3 separate regions of the Homo sapiens genome follow, and all the other regions are linked to region 2. Evidence: fine-mapped expression QTL. A gene starts in region 2. Each other region holds a variant in brackets. All regions are shown on one strand. Distances are between the middles of the regions.

Region 1 (7,858 bases), 26 kb before region 2:
CTTCCCTTTTTACTGAGTTGTTCTGCTTGTTGAGGGGAGAGGACAGATGCAGAGGGCAGGGGCTGCTCCTCGCCAGTATTGTGCCCCCAGCACTTAGCTGAGTGCCGGCACGTAGGAAGCACGGGTGGTGCCTGTGGATGAGCTCACGCGCTCTGCTGCTGCTTAGCCGTGTGCTCTTAAGCATGTTCATCTCATAGCTCTTTCTTCTATTGTAGAATGGAGATAAGCCATTGACCTCTTAAAGTTGTTGTTTTAAGTAGAGTTTATGCCTGGCACATAACGGGTACTCCATAAGTACTAGTTCCCTTTCTTCCATCTTGCCCTCACCCCCCACCCCCGCAACACACACACACAGAGGTTTTAAAACCGTTGTTAGTTAGAACTGGAAGAGATCCTGTAGCCCTGTACCCATAGTTGATTCCTTTGGAGACTGAGGCTCGGAGAAGGGAGTACTTAGCCCAAGCTCAGGTGGCTGGCAAGGAACAGGTGAGAGCACGGGGTCCCATGGCCTCCAGGACTGTGGCCTCTTTGTACACACTGTCCTTCGAGGTTTGCAGGGGCAGAATTGTCTCTTGTCTCTGGATCCCCAGCACTTACCAGGGTGTCTGCCACAGAGCTGGCTGTAAGAGAATATTTCCCAAGTGGATGGGTGGGCAGATGGATGTGCGGTGAAGGAACCCGTAGACGGGACTGGGAGCTGCTTTCCCAGTAAACCAAGCAGAAAACCATGTTGCAGGGAACCTAAGGTTGCAGGGAACCTTCGGGGCTGCCTGGCAGTGCTTTGAAGTGAGCGCCCTTCCCTGCTTCTCCCTGTCGGCGGGTCCCTGACCCTAGGAACTTAGAACTGAATTGAGAACATACGGCTTGTATCGACACAGGCCACACTATTAAGCTATGCTAAATGGGGAGGGCAGAGCACATCATAAAGGCCCAGGTAATGACCCTGACAGGAAGAGGTCCCGGTGGCCTGGAGAAGATGTGCAGGAGGTAGGACTTGAGTTGGGCCTTGAAGGCTGGAGGATTTCAGTGGACTGAAGAGGGAGGAAAGGGCATTTCAGGCTTGAGAAGCAGTTACAGGCGGGCCGATGGAGGTGGAGTGAGCAGGGTGAGTTGATGAGGCAGGAGGGAGCTTGGCTGCACTCTGTGCCATCTGTTTGTCTGGCACATCCTTTTCTTGTCAGCTCTCCATTTTCTATATAGGAGTTGTGTTGGATTACTCATAACAGACTCAGAAAAATGGCTACTCTAGCTCATGGTTTTCTCCTCCTCCAGTAATGGAACAGTCCAGGGTGGTATAGGAGCAACATTGGAAACCAAGCTCCTTCTACTCTCCCCTTCCAAGACTGGGTAATTTATGAAGGAAAGAGGTTTAATGGACTCACAGTTCTGCATGGCTGGGGAGGCCTCGCAATTATGGCAGTAGGCGAAGGGGAAACAAAGGCACATCCTACATGGTGGAAGGCAAGAGAGCTTGTGCAGGGGAATTACCATTTATAAAACCGTCAGGCCAGGTGCAGTGGCTCATGCCTGTAATCCCAGCACTTTGGGAGGCAGAGGTGGGCAGGTCGCCTGAGGTCAGGAGTTTGAGACCAGCCTGGCCAACATGTTAAACCCCATCTCTACTAAAGATGCACAAATTAGCTGGGCATGGTGGTGGGCGCCTGTAATCCCAGCTACTTGGGAGGCTGAGGCAGGAGAATTGCTTGAACCCAGGAGACAGAGGTTGCAGTGAGCTGAGATCGCACCTGCGCTCCAGCCTCAGCAACAGAGTGAGACTCCATCTGAAAAACAACAACAACAAAAAACCCATCAGATCTCTTGAGACTTATTTACTATCACGAGAACAGCCCCCATGATTCAATTACCTCCCACTGGGTACCTCCCACCAGGTCCGTCCCATAACACATGGGAATCATGGGAGTTATATTATTCCACCCCCAGGCCCTTCCAAAGCACAAGTCCTCACATTTCAAAACCAATCATGCCTTCCCAACAGTCCCCAAAAGTCTTAATTCATTTCAGCATTAATTTAATAGGCCACAGTCCAAAGTCTCATCTGAGACAAGGCAGGTTGCTTCCACCTATGAGCCTGTAAAATCAAAAGCAAGTTAGTTACTTCCTAGATACAATGGGGGTACAGGCATTGGGTAAATACACCTGTTTCAAATGGGAGAAATTGGCCAAAACGAAGGGGCTACAGGCCCCATGCAAGTCTGAAATCCAGTGAGGCAGTCAAATCTTAAAGCTCCAAAATGATCTTTGACTCCATGTCTCTCATCCAGGGCACGCTGATGCAAGAGGTAGACTCCCACGGCCTTGGGCAGCTCTGCCTCTGTGGCTTTGGTAGGGTACAGTCCGTCATCCTGGCTGCTTTCACAGGCTGGCATTGAGTGTCTGTGTGTTTTCCAGGGCAGGGTGCAAGCTGTCAGTAGATCTACCATTCTGGGGTCTGGAGGACAGTGGCCCTCTTCTCACAGCTCTACTAGGCAGTGCCCCAGTGGGAACTCTGCCTTGGGGCTCTAACCCCGTCTTTTCCTTCTGCACTGCCCTAGCAGAGGTTCTCAATGAGGGCTCTGCCCCTGCAGCACACCTCTGCCTGGACATCCCGTTGTTTCTATACATCCTCAGAAATCTAGGTGGAGGTTTCCAAACCTCCATTCTTAACTTCTGTGCACCTGCAGGCTCAACACCACATGTGAACCGCCAAGGCTTGGGGCTTGTACCCTCTG[AAGC/A]AGCAGCCTGGGTTGTACATTGGCGCTTTTTAGCCATGGCTGGAGGGGCTAGGACACAGGGCACCAAGTCCCTAGGCTGCACACAGCAGAGGGGGCCCTGGATCTGGCCCAGGAAACCATTTTTTCCTTCTAGGTGTCTGGACCTGTGATGGGAGGGGCTGCTGTGAAGGTCTCTGACATGCTCTGGAGACATTTTCCTTATTGGCTTGGTGGTTAGCATTTGACTCCTAGTTACTTATGCAAATTTCTGCAGCCAGCTTGAATTTCTCCCCAGAAAATGGGTTTTTCTTTTCTACTGCATCATCAGGCTGCAAATTTTTCAAACTTCTGTGCTCTGCTTCCTCTTGAATGCTTTGCCACTTAGAAATTTCTTTCACCAGATGCCATAATCATGTCTCTCAAGTTCAAATTTCCATAGATCTCTAGGGCAGGGGCAAAATGCCACCAGTCTCTTAGCACAGCAAGAATCACCTTTACTCTAGTTCCCAGCAAGTTCCTCATCTCCATCTGAGACCACTTCAGCCTGTACCTTATTGTCCATATCACTATCAGCATTTTGATCAAAGCCATTCAACAAGTATCTAGGAAGTTCCAAACTTTCCCACATTTTCCTGTCTTCTTCTGAGCCCTCCAGACTGTTTCAACCTCTGCCTGTTACCCAGTTCCAAAGTTGCTTCCGCATTTTTAGATGTCTTTACAGCAATGCCCCCCTCCCAATACCAGTTTACAGTATTAGTCTGTTCTCATGCTGCTGATAAAGACATAACCAAGACTTGGTAATTTATAAAGGGAAGAGGTTTAGTGGACTCACAATTCCACATGTCTGGGGAGTCCTCATAATCATGGTGGAAGGCAAAGGAGAAGCAAAGGCATGTCTTACATGGCAGCAGGCAAGAAAGAGCATGTGCAGGGGAACTGCCCTTTATAAAACCATCAGATCTTGTGAGACTTACTGTTGTGGGAACAGCATGGGAAAAAACCCATCCCCATGATTCAGTTATCTCCCACCGGGTCCCCCCCACAACACGTGGGAATTATGGGAGCTAAAATTCAAGATGAGATTTGGGTGGAGACACAGCCAAACCATATCACACATTTTATGGTCAGTGATGTCCAGTCATCAGTTGTTGGACACTCGGATTGTTTCAACTCTTTGACTTCTATGGATAATGCTGCTGTGGGCATTCATATGCAAGTATTGGTGTAGACGTATGTTTCCATTTCTCTTGAGAGTATTCCTAGGAGTGGAATTGCTGGACCATATAGTATGTTGAACTTTTTTAGTGTCTTCTGTAGTGTTTTCCAAGGCAGCTGCACCATTTTATCATCCCACCAGCAGTGTATGAGGACCAATCCTTCCATTTTTAACCTCTTGCCACAGCACCTGGGGCCTCCCCATCTCCAGGTCACCTGGGGTCACGATGGGTAGGTCCCCTGGGTTCTCTCTTCCTTGGGGCTCCCCTCTGCTGCAGCAGGGGTCTCTGCTCTCCCTCATCAGTTACCCTTCCTGTGCCTGTTCCTCATCTTCTGGGGGGACTTTGTATCTCCTGTCTGCTCCTCCTCTTGGTCCTGAGAGTTGAGAGCTCTTTGGTTCCTATAGCGGGTTTGTTGGGAGTAGTGCTAACAGCGCACGCCCTGGCTGCTGTGTCTGACCAGGAGCCCCTGTTCCAGTGTAGGGTTTCCACCTCTGCCTTCAGGTATGTCCCCTCAGCTGGGCACACCCTGTCTCCTCTGCCCTCCACTCTTCTTGTGAAGCCCAGCCCAGGTAACGGCCAGCTTCCCCTCATCATGTAGACTCTTCTTCCGTGTGCTACGTCTGCTTCTACCCACACTTTTCTTTTCTTTTTTTTTTGTACAGATGGGCGTTTCACTTTGTTACCCAGGCTGGTCTCGATCTCCTGGGCTCAAGCAATCCTCTCGTCTCAGCCTCCCAAAGTGCAGGGATTACAGGCATGAGCCACTGTGCCTGGCCTAGCCACACTTTTCTCTGTGCTCTTGTAGTATCTGTTTTCACAGTTGTCCCCCTCCCACCCCCACCGCCTTTTAAAAATTTTTAAAATTGTGATGAAAAACACATAACAAACTTTACTGTCTTAACCATTTTAAAGTATATAGTTCAGTCATGTTAAGTGTATTCACGTTGTCTAACAGTTTCCCTGAACTTTTTTATCTCCCCAAGCTGAGACTCCATACCTGTTGAACGCTAACTCCCCCTTTCCTCCCTCCCTGCAGCCCCTGGCAATCACCTTTCTACTTTCTGTCTCGATGAATTTTACTTCCCCAGATACCTCATATCAGTGGAATTATACAGTATTTGGAGTTTTTTTGACTGGCTTATTTCACTTAGTATAAAGTCCTCAAAGTTCACCCATGTTATAGATAAGGGAAGATTGGAGATTGTTGTAATCTAATTTTGCTGCTATTACAGAATATTTGAGACTGCATAATTTATAAGCAATGTAAGTCTATTTAGCTCACAGTTCTGGAGCCTGGAAAGTCCAAGGGCATGGCATTGGCATCTTGCCGTGTCATTTGCAATTGGCATTATTCCATTCAGGAGGCCAGAGCTCTATGGCCTAATCTCAAAGTTGCCATCTCTTACCACTGTTCCATTGGGGATTAAGTTTCCAACACATACTTTTTGAGGAACACATTGAAAGCATTGCAGAGCCTTATTCATCTGTTTGCCCTTGGAGCCTAGCACACTGCCAGGCACATTGAATAAGCTTAATTAATGATTAGTGAATTGAAGTGGCTGCAGTGTCACAGGAACCCAAAAGAGGGACAGCAGAAATTGCCATAGTTGGTATGAGGACATCCTGACCTAGACATTTTTGACCTAGTAAATGTTTTGTTCATGATGGGCATTTGACAGTTATTTTCATCAGAATTATATCAACATTGGTGAGTTTATACCAAGAAATATTTTCTGCAGCAAATTCTATTATGCCCACTTAAATCCTTGCTCAGTTTTTTTTTTTTTTTTTTTTATGTAGGTCAGTTAAACCATTTCTAATATGTGGCAGATAACAATCTGTGCTCAGATTTACAGATAAGCTATTCTGGGATTATTTCGAAAGGTAATGCTCTTTTGGGTGGAGGACTTCAAGATTAATTTGTGTACTAATTAACAAGTTAAAGATCATACCAGAACAGTGATCTTTAAGCACGGACCTGTAGTGGTCAAGAAAGTAACACAGGCATTTCCAGTATTAATGCCAGATATTTTGGTTTATACTCCTTGAAAGACTGCCTGAATTTCAGGCTGTGTAGAACTGACTCATCCTGGAATCTAGGCCTACATATTGCATATCAGGAGGTGCAATATGAAAATAAAGTCAAAGCAAGGGCCCAGGCATGGTGGCTCATGCCTGGAATCCCAACACTTTGGGAGGCCAAGACGGGCAGATCGCTTGAGGTCAGGAGTTCGAGACCAGCCTTGCTAACGTGGTGAGACGTGGTCTCTGCTAAATATACAAAAATTAGCTGGGGGTGGTGGTGTGCACCTACAGTCCCAGCTACTTGGGAAGCTGAGGCAAGAGAATCACTTGAACCCAGGAGATGGAGGCTGCAGTGAGCCAAGATGGTGCCACTACACTCCAGTCTAGGCGAGACTCCATCTGAAAAAAAAAAAAAAAAAAAAAAGACAGCAGAACATCCTTTAACACACATTTTCTATATTTATTTTCTTCTACTGAAATCATTTTCAGTGAGATGAGGTGGGTCCTTTGCCTTATACTTTTTAGAGTGGTGATCTGATTCACTGATCAATTTTTGTTTCAGTATCTAATTTTTATTGATTACAGTTTCCTTATCAAGTCCAATATGCTGGTGGAGGGGGTAGCGAGGGGTACCCAGTTTCACAGGGTGTTGTCTTTAGCTGCTCTGTATGTGTGCATTCCCACGCACCGCTTATTTCTGGCATAGAAAATGTATTACGAATGGAATGAAGGAATGACAACTTATGTTCATTTCTTAGCTACTGCATGAAAAAATTGGGAGCGATTCCCTTCAGGTATTCCAGGGTGGCCTTGCCATCTTGCATGGGTGTGTTTCACTGCCAACTAAGTCTCCTTGCTCCCAGTCACTTTGAAAACCACATGCGAACTGCTCACACCACTGGAGCAAAAGAGCAAAAGGCAGAGTCCAAAGACTTCATTTGGGAAGGCCCCCCAGGAGGGGTGAGAAGGAAGACCTTTGCAATAGGATAAATATCCGCATTCCCCAGTTCCCCTCTCTGGGTCTGTAAGGCTTGGATCTCTGTTCATTTTTTCTAGGTCCATGGAAAGAAATTATTCCTTAGATTTGATCTAGATGAAGAAATGGGGCCCCCTGGCAGCAGCCCAACACCAGAGCCTCCACAAAAAGAAGTGCAGAAGGAAGGGGCTGCGGACCCAAAGCAGGTCGGGGAGCCCAGCGGGCAGAAGACCCTTGATGGATCCTCACGGTCTGCAGAGCTCGTCCCCCAGGGCGAGGATGATTCTGAGTATTTGGAGAGAGACGCCCCTGCAGGAGATGCTGGGAGGTGGCTGCGTGTCAGCTTTGGTTTGTTTGGCAGCGTTTGGGTGAACGATTTCTCCAGAGCCAAGAAAGCCAACAAGAGGGGGGACTGGAGGGACCCTTCCCCGAGGTAATGGTGTGGCCATCTGATTTTCGTGGGCTCTGATAGTCATAGGGCCCTGCTTGGTGGGGTTTGGGACTTCAGCAGTGGGGACATACTGAGGACGTCCAGTCTGCCCCCCAGGGCCCTGCTGTCTTGGGGAGAGAGGCCACCTCTGTATCTACCTGTGATAGGAAGTAGACTGTGGTCTGCATGCAGGAGAGGGTTGTGCACCAAGAGGTGGCTGGGAGAAGGGGAGAATTTTCCCAGCAAATGTGGCACTTGAGGGGGGACTGTCCCTGAAGAACATTTTATTGCCTGACTCCTGACTAGTGTGCTTTGAATTTAGGGAGAAGATTTTCCCAGTTTTATTTTAAGTATATTGTTTGTGTGTTTATTTTTTATTGAGATATAATTAACATTCAGTAGAATGCAGATCTTAAGTATTCAGCTTGATGAGTTTTTTTGCTTTGTTTTGAGACGGAGTCTTGCTCTGTTGGCCCAGGCTGGAGTGCAGTGGCACGAT
Region 2 (5,908 bases):
TGTAGTTATGGCTGGTGGAACAGGGGTTCAATTAGTCACTGTCTGGTGGAGCTGCAGGTGTTTTACTATTGCTTATCTCAAGGCCAGCGTTTAGCTGCTGGAGAAAAAGAAGAGCCCTGTGGCAGTTAGAGCTTAGTTGATTCTTCAAGTGTAGGGGTGCCTGACTTCACCATTGCCTGCATGGCCTTAGGTCCTGTTTATAATTGGGTATCTTATTGCCACAGAGTCTGTTCCGTTAGTCTTATGATCTCTGTTTTAATGTTAATGCCAGCCAGTTGTGTATGAACTCCAAAAGGAAGGGGGTACAATGAGGGCTATCTGATCTCCTGTCCCGTTATTTGAAATGCTTTTTCCCTGGTGCTGGAAAGAAATAGCACTTGTAGGCTGGGAGCCGTGGCTCACGCCTGTAATCCCAGTACCTGGGGAGGCTGAGGCGGGCGGATCACGAGGTCAAGAGATTGAGACCATCCTAACCAACATGGTGAAACCCTGTCTCAACTAAAAATAAAAAAATTAGCTGGCCGTGGTGGTACATGCCTGTAGTTCCAGCTACTCGGGAGGCTAAGGCAGGAGACTCACTTGAACCTGGGAGCCAGAGGTTGCAGTGAACCAAGATCGCGCCACTGCACTCCAGCCTCACGACAGAGTGAGACTCCATTTAAAAAAAAAAAAAAAATGAAGAAGAAATAGCACTCGAAGGCTGGGCGCAGTGGCTTGCCTGTAATCCTAGCACTTTGGGAGGCCGAGGAGGGTGGATCATGAGGTCAGGAGTTCAAGACCAGTCTGGCCAACATGGTGAAACCCTGTCTCTACTAAAAATCGAAAAATTACCCAGGCGTGGTGGTTGGGCGCCTGTAATCCCAGCTACTCGGGAGGCTGAGGCAGGAGAAGCACTTGAACCCAGAAGGCAGAGGTGGCAGTGAACCGAGACTGTGCCACTGCACTCCAGCCTGGCAACAAGAGTGAAATTCTGTCTCAAAAAAAAAAAAAAAAAAAAAAAAAAAAAAAAGGCGCTTGAACATTAATTTACTAAGCAGGCCATTTTTACTTCCTGCAGAAAGGGTACACTCGCCAGCAGTTTTGCCATGGGAGTATACCAAACAAAGGAGACAGGGTCATTTATAACCTGACTCGTCCACCCCACTGCTTGTGTCTAGTTTCCATTGGCTGGAACGGTGCCTCACGTTCTGTATTTGTCCCGATTGGCTAGCAACTTAGAAGTTTTTAAAAGAGGCAAAGGTAGAGGAGAACAAAGGAAGGAGGAAGTAACTTGTGGAATGGTGACAAAGGTTGAAACACCTTCAAATAAGGAAGAGGAACAGGCTATGACCTAATGCTTTCTTGGACCACTATAAGCATGCCAGGGCAAATATTTAGGCTAAATTGTGAGAGCTAAGAACATGAAGTACATTGATTTCTTTATCATAGCTAGCAGATATTTAAGAATGTTAGCACAGGTCTTTGAATAAAGTTTGCTTCTAAGAGAAGTTACTATTTATTCCTAATTAAATGGGGAGGAAAGTCTTTGAAGAGGAACCTCTACTTTACTTTTTATACCGTCATGGCTGGAAACTAAGTTTTTAAGATTTTTCTGGGGTTCCCTTGGCCGAGGTGGGGAGTGGGAGGGCTGTCCAGTGGTAGGGACTTAGGATTTTTAGTTTACAGTAGTAGGGGAAACACTCTGTAATCTAATACATAAGTAAATGATGTATTAGAATATGGTAAATATAGGCAAGTAGACCCCCACTGGGATTAGCAGTGGTGGAAATGTGAGAGAGGGCAAACAGGTGGGTCTAGATGAGGTGTGAGCAGACTCGAGGGGCACAGGAGTTAGTCAAGCCAGTATCTGGGGGATAGTGCAGGAATAGTGAACAGCTAGACAAAAAGTCCTAGGGCCAGAGAAAGCAAAAGCATAAGAGATGGAGGCCAGAGAGGTAATCTGGGTGGAAGGCTGCAGCCTCTCAGGATCCCTATAGGTGCTTTGGCTTTTGTTGGAGAGACACTGAACAGCTTTGGGCAGTGAACGTACCTGACAGGTTTCCTGTTTGTTTTTGAGATGAAGTCTCGCTCTTGTCCCCCAGGCTGGAGTGCAATAGCGCGATCTCAGCTCACTGCAACCTCTGCCTCCTGTGTTCAAGCGATTCTCCTGCCTCAGCCTCCCAGGTAGCTGGGATTATAGGCGCCTGCCACCATGCCTGGCTAATTTTTGTATTTTTAGTAGAGACGCAGTTTCAGCATGTTGGCCAGGCTGGTCTTGAACTCCAGACCTCAGGTGATCCGCCCGCCTTGGCCTCCCAAAGTGCTGGGATTACAGGCATGAGCCACCGCGCTCGGCTAGACCTGACAGGTTTTAAAAGGATTACTGGTTGCTGTGTTAAAACAGACTGCAGGATGGCTTAGGTAGCCAGTAGGTTTTTTTTTTTTTTTGGAGACGTAGTCTTGCTCTGTTGGCCTGGCTGGAGTGCAGCGGTGTCATCTTGGCTCACTGCAAACTCCGCTTCCCGGGTTCAAGTGATTCTCCTGCCTCAGCCTCCGGAGTAGTTGGGACTACAGGCGCCCACCACCACACTCGGCTTTTTTGTATTTTTAGTAGAGACGGGTTTCACCATGTTGGCCAGGATGGTCTCGATCTCTTGACCTCGTGATCCACCCGCCTTGGCCTCCCAAAGTGTTGCGATTACAGGCGTGAGCCACCACGCCTGGACGGGTAGCCAGTAGTTTCTAGGGCTGGAGAGATCTAGGATGAGAGAAGTTTCCACATTCCTGTTACAGGCTCTCTAAGGCTTCAGCTCCTTTTTCTAGGACTAAGCTGGATCTCAAGTAAACACTAGAGAGGGGGCAGCTGAAGCTCCAGGAGTGTGTGGGGCTCCCTGGGGCTGGATGGCGGTGGCGGGCAGGCGAGCTGGGCTGTGCTCGGGTGTGTTACAGTAAAGACGCCCAGCTTGGCGCTGGCCCGGCCTTTTCACGGTTTTAGGCTCTACAGAGAGCGGCTGCAGAGCTCACCCGGCTGGCAGGAGCCACCGAGGCCGGACACGTGGGCGACTTATTGACCAAGTGGGGAGGAAGCAGCCCCGCACTGCTCTCCCGACTGCGGACCACCGTTGGGCTCCTGCGCATCCTAAGCCCCACCGCCTCACCTCCAGTCCCCACAGCGTTCGCGCTCCCAGCCGGGGTAAGCGGAAGAAAACAAAGGCCCGGCTCCATCAGGGCACCAATCCCGCTCGTCGGCCTCTTTCTCGGCCTCCAATGAGCTTCTAGAGTGTTATCACGCCAGTCTCCTTCCGCGACTGATTGGCCGGGGTCTTCCTAGTGTGAGCGGCCCTGGCCAATCAGCGCCCGTCAGCCCACCCCACGAGGCCGCAGCTAGCCCCGCTGGCGGCCGAGGCCGGTTGAAGTGGGCGGAGCGGCGGGCGGGGCGTCGCCGTACTAGGCCTGCCCCCTGTCCGGCCAGCCCCTCGAAGCACCTACTCCACAGGTCCAGCCGGCCGGTGAGCGCCTGGGGACCGCAGAGGTGAGAGTCGCGCCCGGGAGTCCGCCGCCTGCGCCAGGATGGAGTTCGTGAAATGCCTTGGCCACCCCGAAGAGTTCTACAACCTGGTGCGCTTCCGGATCGGGGGCAAGCGGAAGGTGATGCCCAAGATGGACCAGGTGGGCCGAGCCTCCCTGCTTGCCCGGGGCGGGGAAGGAGCTCGCTGGGCCGGCCTCAGGGCCTGAGCGGCCGGGCCCGGATCTGGGGCAAGGGGCGCGGCGAGCAGGGCCGACGCCTGGGTGTTCCCGTCCCCCTTTCCTCGAGCCTTCCCCCTGTAGGGCCCGGGTGGACGCGGCCGTCCTGGCTGACCTGTCCCTGCCCCCGCAAGCCGCCCTGGGCATGAGCGACTTTTGCGTGGTTCCCGGTGGTTGCGCTCCCCGTTTCGTCCCCTCCGTGAGCATCGGCGCTTACCGGTATTTTAACCCGAGGGTTACACATCTGAGGCAATGTGGGTGGGTTACGCGGGAGAGGACGAGTGAGTTTTTTGGTAAGCGGAATGAACTATGCAGATAACATCACATGAAGGCCGTTTCTGGAATGAAGTCTGACTCCTCCAGTTTCACCACCTCTTCCGGAGCTCTCCCCGCCTTGCTGCCTTCCATCGCTTCATCCTCGGTGCTTCCTGAGTTTTAAAATCGCCTATCTACGCTTCCAAGTTCCAATGAGTTATCTAACGTCTATGGATTAGCTAGGTGGTTGGTGGAAGGTCAGAACTTGGTTTTACTTAGATTTTTATCTGCCTCATGCCTGTACTATTTGTTTAATGAATGCATAGGAGGTGTTTTTATTCCAACAAGAAAATTATTCGTACGCGATTATTGAATGAATAGACAAATTCAGCCAAGTTCTTCTGGTCTGGACCAGCCTGGCTGATTTCTGTAACTTTTTTGGGCCAACAGGACAGTAGCAAATGTGACTCAGGCCGAGGCTTGATAGGTGCCTGAACATCGGAGTCTTTCTTTCAGTGTCCATGTGCTTCAGTAAACACACTAGAAAATAAATTTCTGGTTTTTGTCCCCAGTAGACTACACCCTCATTTGGTGTTATTTTTCACGTGCTATCTTTAATACAGGTACATCCTTCAGTCTATTTGTAGAACATTCAGTTTTCTTCATCTTTTCTTTGCCGGTGCTACATTATTTGAATTATTTTGCTACAGAATAACTTCTATTATTTGATATGGCAGATGTCACTTTTTATATTTAGATATAGCATTCATTTATTTAACAAATATTTGACGACCAGTTGTATATCAGATAGTGTTCTAGGTGCTGGAGGTACAACAGTGAACAAGCTAGGTGAAGACCTTGATTTTATAAAACTTACTTTTTAGTGGAAGAGAGACAATTTAAGAAAGCGAATGTACAGTTTTTCACGTGGAGAAAAGCACTGCAGAGGAAGATACTAGCAGGGCAAGGGATCTGAGTGCAGTCAGACCTCATTTGGGTCCAGACTTCATTCCTCTATGTCTCTTTCCTTTCTACAGAAAGACTGTTAGAGAAAATGGTAGCATTGGTTTCCTGTTGGGAGGGAAAGTGGGTGGTCATGGTAAGTGGGTAGAGAAAGACTTCACAGTATACTGTTTTTGTACATTTTGAGTTTTTTTAAAAGCGAGACTTGAGCTATTCTAGCTCTGATAATATGGTGCAGTATTTGTTATGTTAGTTGTAGTCTTTCTGGGCAGTTTTTACATCCCCATGAGCCGTTAAAAAAATACCTGAACCTTTAATTAGGGGAAATAAATTGGAAAAATACATTTCCCTTCACTTAACATTATCTTAGTTTCTCTTTTTTTTTTTTTTTTTTTTTGAGATGGAGTCTTGCTCTGTTACCCAGGCTGGAGTGCAGTGGTGGCGGGACCTCAGCTAGATGCAGCCTCCGCCTCCTGGGTTCAAGCAATTCTCCTGCCTCAGCCTGCTGAGTAGCTGGGATTACAGGCACCTGCCACTACGCCCGGCTGATTTTTTGGTATTTTTAGTAGAGACGGGGTTTCACCATGTTGGTGAGGCTGGTTTTGAACTCTTGACCTCAAGTGATCTGCTCGCCTTGGTCTCCCAAAGTGCTAGGATTACAGGCGTGAGCCACTGCACCCGGCCTTTTTTTTTTTTTTTTTGAGGGGGGGGTCTCACTCCATCGTCCAGGCTAGAATGCTGTGGCCTGAACATGACTCACTCCAGTTTTGACTTCCTTGGCTGAAGCCATCCTCCCACCTCGGCTTCCTGATCCCGAGTAGCTGGGACTCCAGGCACGTGTCACCAATGCATGGCTAATTTTTAAATTTTTTTGTAGACACAATGTCTCGCTGCATTGCCCAGGCTGGTCTTGAACTCCTGAGCTCAAGCGATTTTCCCACCTCAGCCTTCAAAGTGCTGGGATTAC
Region 3 (8,245 bases), 23 kb after region 2:
GAGCTGTTCCTACTGGGACATCTTGGAAGCAACTCTGGGTCTGAGTTTCTGTTTGTTGCCCTGATGTATATCCCCAGTGCCTAGAATGATACTTGTTACATAGGAAGTGCTTGATCCATGTTTGCACAAATGAATCTTTCTCATAATGAGGTTTCTCTAAACAAGCTGTTCTCCCAAAAACTTAAACCCAGCTTTATGTTGAAGCATCTCATTATACATTGGAAAGATGAAATGTGTAGTGAGACTTTGAATCTTCTTTTGAATCTAGAAACATTAGCATTTTTAGACCATTCTATTTTAATATTTATGAAATTTATGAAATAATAAGAAACATGAGGCCGGGCTCAGTGGCTTATGCCTGTAATCCCAGCAGTTTGGGAGGCCAGGGCTAGTGGATCATGAGGTCAGGAATTTGAGACCAGCTTGGCCAACATGGTGAAACCCCACTTCTACTAAAAATATAAAAATTAGCTGGGCGTGGTGGTGCATGCCTGTAATGCCAGCTCCTGGAGAGGCTGAGGCAGGAGAATCATTTGAACCTGGGAGGCGGAGTTTGCAGTGAGCTGAGATCGTGCCATTGCACTCCAGCCTGGGCAACATTGCGAGACTCCATCTCAAAAACAAAAACAAAAACAAAAAAAATGTGTGACCTAAATTAGGCTTATAGATGAACCATTGCAGTCATGATTAATTCCGCCATTGTTTGCCTTGTGATCTTTGGTGCCATGTCTGTACATATTTCATGATTTCTGTGTTTTTACGGTTTCCATTTCAGATCTCCCTTGAGTTTAGAAATCTGGCTGAGAAATACCAAACAGTGATTGCCGACATTTGCCGGAGAATGGGCATTGGGATGGCAGAGTTTTTGGATAAGCATGTGACCTCTGAACAGGAGTGGGACAAGGTTAGTCTCATAAAACAGTGTCTGTGTGTGATGTATTAGACAGAGCTGGCAGTCCTCATAGTGAAGCTCAGAACAAGAAAAGTTGTCCAGTATTTTCAGCCCCTCTGGTTTTACAATTCATCTGTTTAGGTTGAATGTCTCATCATAAACAGTTTATTCCAGAGTTAATTCCAAACCAGCAGCTATGTAGGATATCAGCCAGGCTAGGAGTAGGGTACTGGAGAGAAGTGCTTATCTAGACAAAGGGATGTAATTGACCATGAAGATTAAAACTACACATCAAAACATAAGGTAGGGTTAGGAGTCTTGCCTATTTTTCATAGGAATGGTGTTTGTGAGACTTACTCATCACTTCTGTGGAAGTAAAGACATTTTATTTATTTATTTTAAAGCCAGTCAGATTTAGCAGGCAGAGACATTTCAGACATCTAAAGTGTTGATGTATTTCATACCTTTAACTGTGCTTAAATTAGGATCTCCGAAAAGATGCTGCTACATGGTCACTACGTTAGTGTAGGTCCAAGGTCTTGGGCCTCTTAATTTTTCAAACCTCAAAACTTGACAGCAGTTATCTTTGGAACTGCTGATTTGTGCTTCCTAAGTTAACAGCATACAATGACTGCTAGAAATCAATTTCTGCATTTAAGGTGAAGTTAGCCGGGTACTATGGTTTACCTGTAATCTCAGCACTTTGGGAGGCTGAGGTGGGAGGATCATTTGAGCCCAGGAGTTAGACACAAGCCTAAGCAACATAGCGAGACCCCGTCTTTCAAAAAATTAAAAAATGAGCAGGGAATTGGTGGCATGTGCCTGTGGTCCCAGCTACTCTGGAGGCTGAGGTGTGGGAGGATTGCTTGAGCCCAAGAGTTGAAGGTTGCAGTGAGCCATGATTGTGCCACTGCACTCCAACGTGGGTGACAGAGCAAGACACCATCTGAAAGAAAATAAAGTTGAAGTTAAAACTTCTGGCCAAGAACCAGCACTGGTTATGATAGTAACTCATTTTCTGTTGTGCAGATTTATTCAGGAAACTTAATTTTAGGTTGTTGAATAGAAGTTTTGATCAGATAAAATTGAATTAAAAAAAATTTTTTTTGAGACAGGGTCTTGCTGTTATCCAGGCTGGTGTGTAGTGGTGTGATCACGGCTCCCCGCAGCCTCAACCTCCTGGGCTCAGGTGATCCTCCCACCTCAGCCTACCGAGTAGCTGTAACTACAGTGCATGACACCATACCAGGCTCATTTTTGTACATTTTTTGTAGAGAGAGGGTTTTGCCATGTTGCCCAGGCTAGTCTCAAACTCCTGGCATCAAACAGTCCTCCCACTCTGGCCTCTCAAATGTTGGGATTACAGGCATGACCAGCCAATTATTTCAAGGAGTTATTTTTTTTCTTCTACTTTGGGGGAAGATGAATTATATAAGTCTCCATTTTAGGAGTATTTCTACCAAAAGAACTATTATCTTCAAATATATTTTTGGATAGTACTATAGATATACTAATTTTTTTTTAAATTTCTAGTAATTCTTTTGAAGATTTTGTATAGCTGTCCAAAGCCAATTTCTGTCTACCTAATTTCAGCAAGATTTCACTCTTTTCATGTTACTTTTGTCCCAGAACAAATTTCAAGTGCTTTCTCTTCACCTGTGCATTCTTCCCCCTGATTAGTCTCTGGCTTTGTATTACTTTCAGTCAGAGACGACTTTTTTTTTTTGAGACAGGGTCTCACTCTGTCACCCAGACTGGAATGCAGTGGCACAGACAAGGCAGCCTTGACCTTCTGGGCTCAAGCAATCTTCCTTGCCCTCAGCCTCCTGAGTAACTGGGACCACAGGCACGTTGCCACCATGCCTGGCTAATTTATTTTAATTTTTATTATTTTTGAGACAGGGTATTGCTCTGTCACCCAGGCTGGAGTGTAGTGGCATGATCAAGGCTCACTGCAGCCTTCACCTCCTGTGCTCAAGCAGTCCTCTCACCTCAGCCTCCCCATTAGCTGGGACTATAGGTCCACACCACTACACCAGGCTAATTTTTGTAATTTTTTGGTAGAGACAGGGTTTCATCGTGTTGCCTAGGCTGGTCTTGAGCTCCTGGGCTCAAGCGATTCACCTGCCTTAGCCTCCCAGGTGTGAGCCACTACACTCAGCCTTTTAAAATTTTTTACAGAGATGAGGTCTTGCTTTGTTGGCCAGGCTGGTCTAAAACTCTTGGGCTCAAGCAGTCCCCTCTCCACAGCCTCCCAAAATTCCGGGATTACAGGCGTGAACTTCGGTCATTTCCTAACTTTTACCCTTCCTAATGACACTCCAGAGCTTACCTTCTTTACTTTTGCTTCTTAAGTTAACTAATAGACAATTATTGTATGTGGATATTGCATTAAGTTGTCTTAGGATACCCTTTTCAGAGGAGGACAGCTTTTGACAAATTGCTGTCGCGGAAAAAAAAAGTATTTGGCAATTAAGAGTTGCATTTACTGAAATCTCTGTTGAGAGAGGGGAAGTTACGTTGTCTCTAAAAGAA[A/G]AACTAAAAAGAAAAGGGGAAGTTTTAGCAAAGTTGTTAAAGCCTGACACTTAAGTCATACTACCTAGTTTTGAACTCTTAGCCCCTGCCACAGACACGGCAGCCCCTTGAACCTTCCTGGGTTCAAGCGAGCCTCCTACTTCAGCCCCCTGAGTAACTGGGACCACTGGCCTGTGTCACTGTGCCTGGCTAATTTTTTTTTTTTCTCACATGGGCAATGTTGGGCAAGTTAAATCGACTTCTTTGTGCCTCAGTTTCCTCATCTGAAATGGAGATCATACTGCTATGTACCTGATACAATGTTTGTGAGGATTGAATGTGCAGAGTTCTTTTTTTCTGTTGTTGTTGTTTTGAGACGGAGTCTCACTCTGTCGCCCAGGCTGGAGTGCAGTGGCGCGATCTCGGCTCCCTGCAAGCTCCACCTCCTGGGTTCACGCCATTCTCCTGCCTTAGCCTTCTGAGTAGCTGGGACTACAGGCACCCGCCACCAGGCCAGCTAATTTTTTTGTATTTTTAGTAGAGACGGGGTTTCACCGTCTTAGCCAGGATGGTCTTGATCTCCTGATCTCGTGATCCGCCCGTCTCAGCTTCCCAAAGTGCTGGGATTACAGGCATGAGCCATCGTGCCCGGCTGAATGTGCAGAGTTCTTAAAACCGTGTCAAGAACATAAAATAGTTATTTGTTCTTTCATATAATGATGATTTTGAGGGCCTGCGGATCTTGACATGTTATCAGATTGGTCAAAAAAAGATTAAACCATAGTTGGTATTGTCCTAGTTCCTGTTACCAGAATATTCCATCTTTCATCGTTGCCTTCTCTCATAGTTTTATGTATCAAAAAGTTTATTGTAAAGCTAGGGCGGGCACGGTGTCTTGGGCTGGTAATCCCAGCACTTTGGGAGGCCAAGGCTGGCAGATCAGTTGAGGTCAGGAGTTCGAGACCAGCGTGGCCAACATGGTGAAACCCCGTCTCTACTAAAAATAAAAAATTAGCTGGATGTGGTGGTGGGTGCTTTAATTCCAGCTACTCAGGAAGCTGAGGCAGGAGAATCACTTGAACCCAAGAGGCAGAGGTTGCAGTGAGTTGAGATTGTGCCAGTGCACTCCAGCCCAGGGGACAAAGTGAGACTTGATCTCAAAAAAAAAAAAAAAAAAAAAGTTATTGTAAAGCTAGACACGGTGGTATTTGCCTACAATCCCAGCTGTTCGGGAAGCTGAGGCAGAAAGATTGCTTGGGTCCAGTAGTTTGAGTCTAACGTGGGCAAATATATGAGACTCCATCTCAAAAAAAAAATAAAAAATAAAAATAAAAAAATGTTTACTAGTTTTTTTCAGTAGCCTTTTATTATAGTAGCAGTACATGTGTATTGTAGAAATTTGGAAAATACAAGTGAAAAATAAAAACATCAAATTCCCGTCAGCCAGAGACTGCTATGAAATGTTTTGAGCACATCCTTCTTGAATGTTTTTTAAATCCTGGTATGTATATTTGTATTTTAAAATCAAAATGCATTCTTACCCATTCTCTTTTGAACCTGCTTTTTTGTAGCTAATGATCTCTAGTGTGTCCATTTCAGTAAAAATTCCATTATTAAAGTGCTTTAAAAATCGTCTCTTACAGTACTGCCACTATGTTGCTGGGCTGGTCGGAATTGGCCTTTCCCGTCTTTTCTCAGCCTCAGAGTTTGAAGACCCCTTAGTTGGTGAAGATACAGAACGTGCCAACTCTATGGGCCTGTTTTTGCAGAAAACAAACATCATCCGTGACTATCTGGAAGACCAGCAAGGAGGAAGAGAGTTCTGGCCTCAAGAGGTAACAGATTCAGGGTATTTTGGGGGAAAATAACTTTAGACATTCTCTGAAAAATCCTTTAACTCTTGTGGTTGCGGGTGACAGAAAAACAAGTCAGGCCTCCCCCAGGCAGCATAAGGGGATGTGGAAAATAGGATAGCTTGACATGAGTTTGCTTCAGGTAGACTGGCTGACTCCCAGGATTCACACCACGTAATCAGTATATTCAAGCCTTGCTGTCCTTGATTTCTTTCAGACGGTCTTTCTCCAAGTGGTGGATATGGTAACAACCCATGTGCACTAGCTTAACAAAAAGTTCTTAGGAATGGCTTTGTTCGGCCTGGCGCAGTGGCTCATGCCTGTAATCCCAACAGTTTGAGAGGCCAAGGTGGGCGGATCACCTGAGGCCAGGAGTTCGAGACCAGCCTGGCCAACATCGTGAAACCCCGTGTTTACTAAAAAATACAAAAATTAGCCGGGCGTGGTGGCAAGGGCTTGTAATCCCAGCTACCTGGGAGGCTGAGGCAGGAGAATCGCTTGAACCCAGGAAGCAGAGATTGCGGTGAGCTCAGATTGTGCCACTGCACTCCAGCCTGGGCGACAGAGTGAGACTCCCTCTCAAAAGAAGAGGAAGGGCTTGGTTCTTCTGCTCAGCCCTGAATCAGTTACTGTTGCTACACAGCTGAGTTCTCTGGCCTCGCCTGGATTACGTCTACACAGTACACACAGAATGGATTTCCCCCAAAGAAAGAATTCTGCAGCAGGAAGGGGAAAGGGATGGCAGGTAGACAAAAACTCCAGGTGTCTGTAATAAGGGACAGGGTCGATCTTTAATTAAAACATGGACAGGGAACAGAAAGCTTTTGATACTGATTTTGTTCAGAAGGAAAGTAGAAAATTTTATGACTGTTCCCTGAATTTATTCCAGCATTTACCTTTTGCTTTCCATAAAAGTGTTTCCTGCAGCCAAGTACTTTAAAGTTTTAAAAAGACGGGTGAGGCTAAGTGTGGTGTCTCATACTTATAATCCCAGTGCTGAGGCCAGGAGTTCAAGACCAGCCTGAGCAACACAGCAAGATACCATCTCTATAAAAAATTGTTAGAAAATGATTCTGCTGAAAGAGCAAAAATAAAAATTAAAGAAAGTAGAAAAAATAAAACTAAATTTAAAAGATTAACTGGGCATGTTGGCATGCACCTGTATTCCTAGGTATTCGGGAGGCTAAGGCACAAGGATCCCTTGAGCGCAGGAGCTCAAGGTTGGATTGAGTTGTAATCACACCACTGCACTCCAGCCTCGGTGGCAGAATGAAACTGTCTCAAGAAAAAAAAAAAGTGACAGAGGGAAACAATATTTGCAATTCATAGAGCAGATACAGGGTTCATATTCCTAATATTAAAAAAAACTTCTAAAAGTTAAGAAAAAGGCCAACTGCCCCACAGAAAAATGGGCAAGGAGATAAGAACAAGATAGTTCACAGGAAGAGACACACAGATGATTATTAAAAATCTGAAAAGATGCTGAGTCTTACTCCTAAGAAAAATTCACATTTAAACTACTCTGGGGGCTGGGCAAGGTGGCTCACGCCTGTAATCTCAACACTGGGAGACCAAGGTAGGAAGATCACTGAAGCCAGGATATCGAGACCAGCCTGGACAACGTAGTGAGACCTTATCTCTTAAAACAAAACAAAACAAAACAAAACAAAAAAAACAGTAAAAATTGGCCGGGCACAGTGACTCCTGCCTATAATCCCAGCACTTTGGGAAGCCCAGGTGAGTGGATCACTTGAGGTCAGGTGTTTGAGAACAGCCTGGCCAACATGGCAAAACTCCGTCTCTACTAAAATTACAAAAATTAGCCAAGTGTGGTGGCATACGCTGGTAGGGCCAGCTACTTGGGAGGCTGATGTGAGACTCCATTTAAAAAAAAAAAATCAAAAATTAGCTGGGTATAGTGGCACACCCCTATAGTTCTCGCTCCTTGGGAGGTTGAGGCAGGAGGATTGCCTGAGCCCAGGAGTTCAAGGCTGCAGTGAACCATGATCGCACCACTGCATTCTAGCAGCCTGGGAGACAGAGCAAAACCCTTGTCTCAAAACAAACAAACAACAACAAAAAAACAAAAAACACTTCCCTCAGCTCAGACATGGCCTTTTAAGTTTCCTAGGTGACTCGTGTGCAGCCAGGGTTGAGAAACCACTCTTGTCTTACCCCTCTTTTGCAGACACAGGGCTCAGAGAAGGGAAGGGGATTGTCTGGGGATGTATAGTGAGGCAGTGGCTGCCTTGGAAGTGGAGTCTCAGTCTCCCGGCTCCTAGGCCAGCCCCTGACCACTGTTCCATTGTCTCCCAGACAGAACATCAGCCACGGGCATGTGATGCATGAGCGTGAGCCACACCATCTTGCACACACAGGAGCAGAGCCCTGCTCTTCTCATTCACTTACTTTATCTGTAAAATAGCATCATTTCTACCACACGGTGGTGGTGTGAATAAAATGAGATGAACTTCTAGCATAGAGTGCTTAGTAAAGGTTCTGGACATTTCGTAGTAGTTGAATCATGCCAAATGTGGTCCTAGGTGATTGGCTTCTTTTGCTAGCATGTTTTCAGGGCTCCTCCATGCTGGGGCATTGCATCACTGCTTTATTCCTTTTTATCGCCTAGTATTATTCCACTGTGTGGATAGACCACATTTATCCATTCATCAGTTGAAGGATATTTGGGTTCTTCCCATTTTTTTTGGCTATGGTGAATAGTACTGTGTACATTTGCATATAAGTTTTTGTGTAGATGTGTGTTTTCCTTTTTCTTGGGTCTATGCTGAGAAGTGGAATTGCTGGTTCATACAGCAGCTCGAACCTTGTGAGGAGCTGCCAGACGCTTTTCCAAGGTCGCTCCACCATTTTACATTCCCGTCAGCAGTGTGAGAGTCCCAGTTTCACCAGCACTTGTTGTTATCTCTTTTTAACTGTATGTATATATACTTAACATTTTATTTATAATAAATGTACATAATAGAGA

What was found. PIP is the estimated chance that this variant, and not a neighbour inherited with it, causes the effect.
Region 1: its variant is the best candidate, but not a certain one, in a credible set for the expression of FDFT1 in atrial appendage (GTEx, PIP 0.57).
Region 3: its variant is the best candidate, but not a certain one, in a credible set for the expression of FDFT1 in whole blood (TOPMed, PIP 0.75).

What each region holds. Positions count from the first base shown.
Region 1 is chr8:11,772,589-11,780,446 of GRCh38, forward strand. NEIL2 (nei like DNA glycosylase 2) reads left to right here. Exons shown (of 5, transcript NM_145043.4): 3 at 7,010-7,362. Among named protein-coding and RNA genes, the nearest start is that of NEIL2, 6.8 kb to the left of the region's middle. The variant AAGC/A (reference allele first, on the strand shown) is at 2,730.
Region 2 is chr8:11,799,284-11,805,191 of GRCh38, forward strand. FDFT1 (farnesyl-diphosphate farnesyltransferase 1) reads left to right here and starts at 3,458. Exons shown (of 8, transcript NM_004462.5): 1 at 3,458-3,648. The coding sequence starts at 3,550. LOC105379243 (a long non-coding RNA gene) reads right to left here and starts at 2,072. Exons shown (of 3, transcript XR_948962.4): 1 at 2,030-2,072. RefSeq lists enhancers at 732-1,375, 1,505-2,247, 2,248-2,989, 3,027-3,186 and silencers at 1,020-1,079, 3,257-3,506, 3,717-3,836.
Region 3 is chr8:11,820,975-11,829,219 of GRCh38, forward strand. It overlaps FDFT1 (farnesyl-diphosphate farnesyltransferase 1), which reads left to right. Exons shown (of 8, transcript NM_004462.5): 4 at 776-904; 5 at 5,050-5,241. Among named protein-coding and RNA genes, the nearest start is that of FDFT1, 22 kb to the left of the region's middle. The variant A/G (reference allele first, on the strand shown) is at 3,428.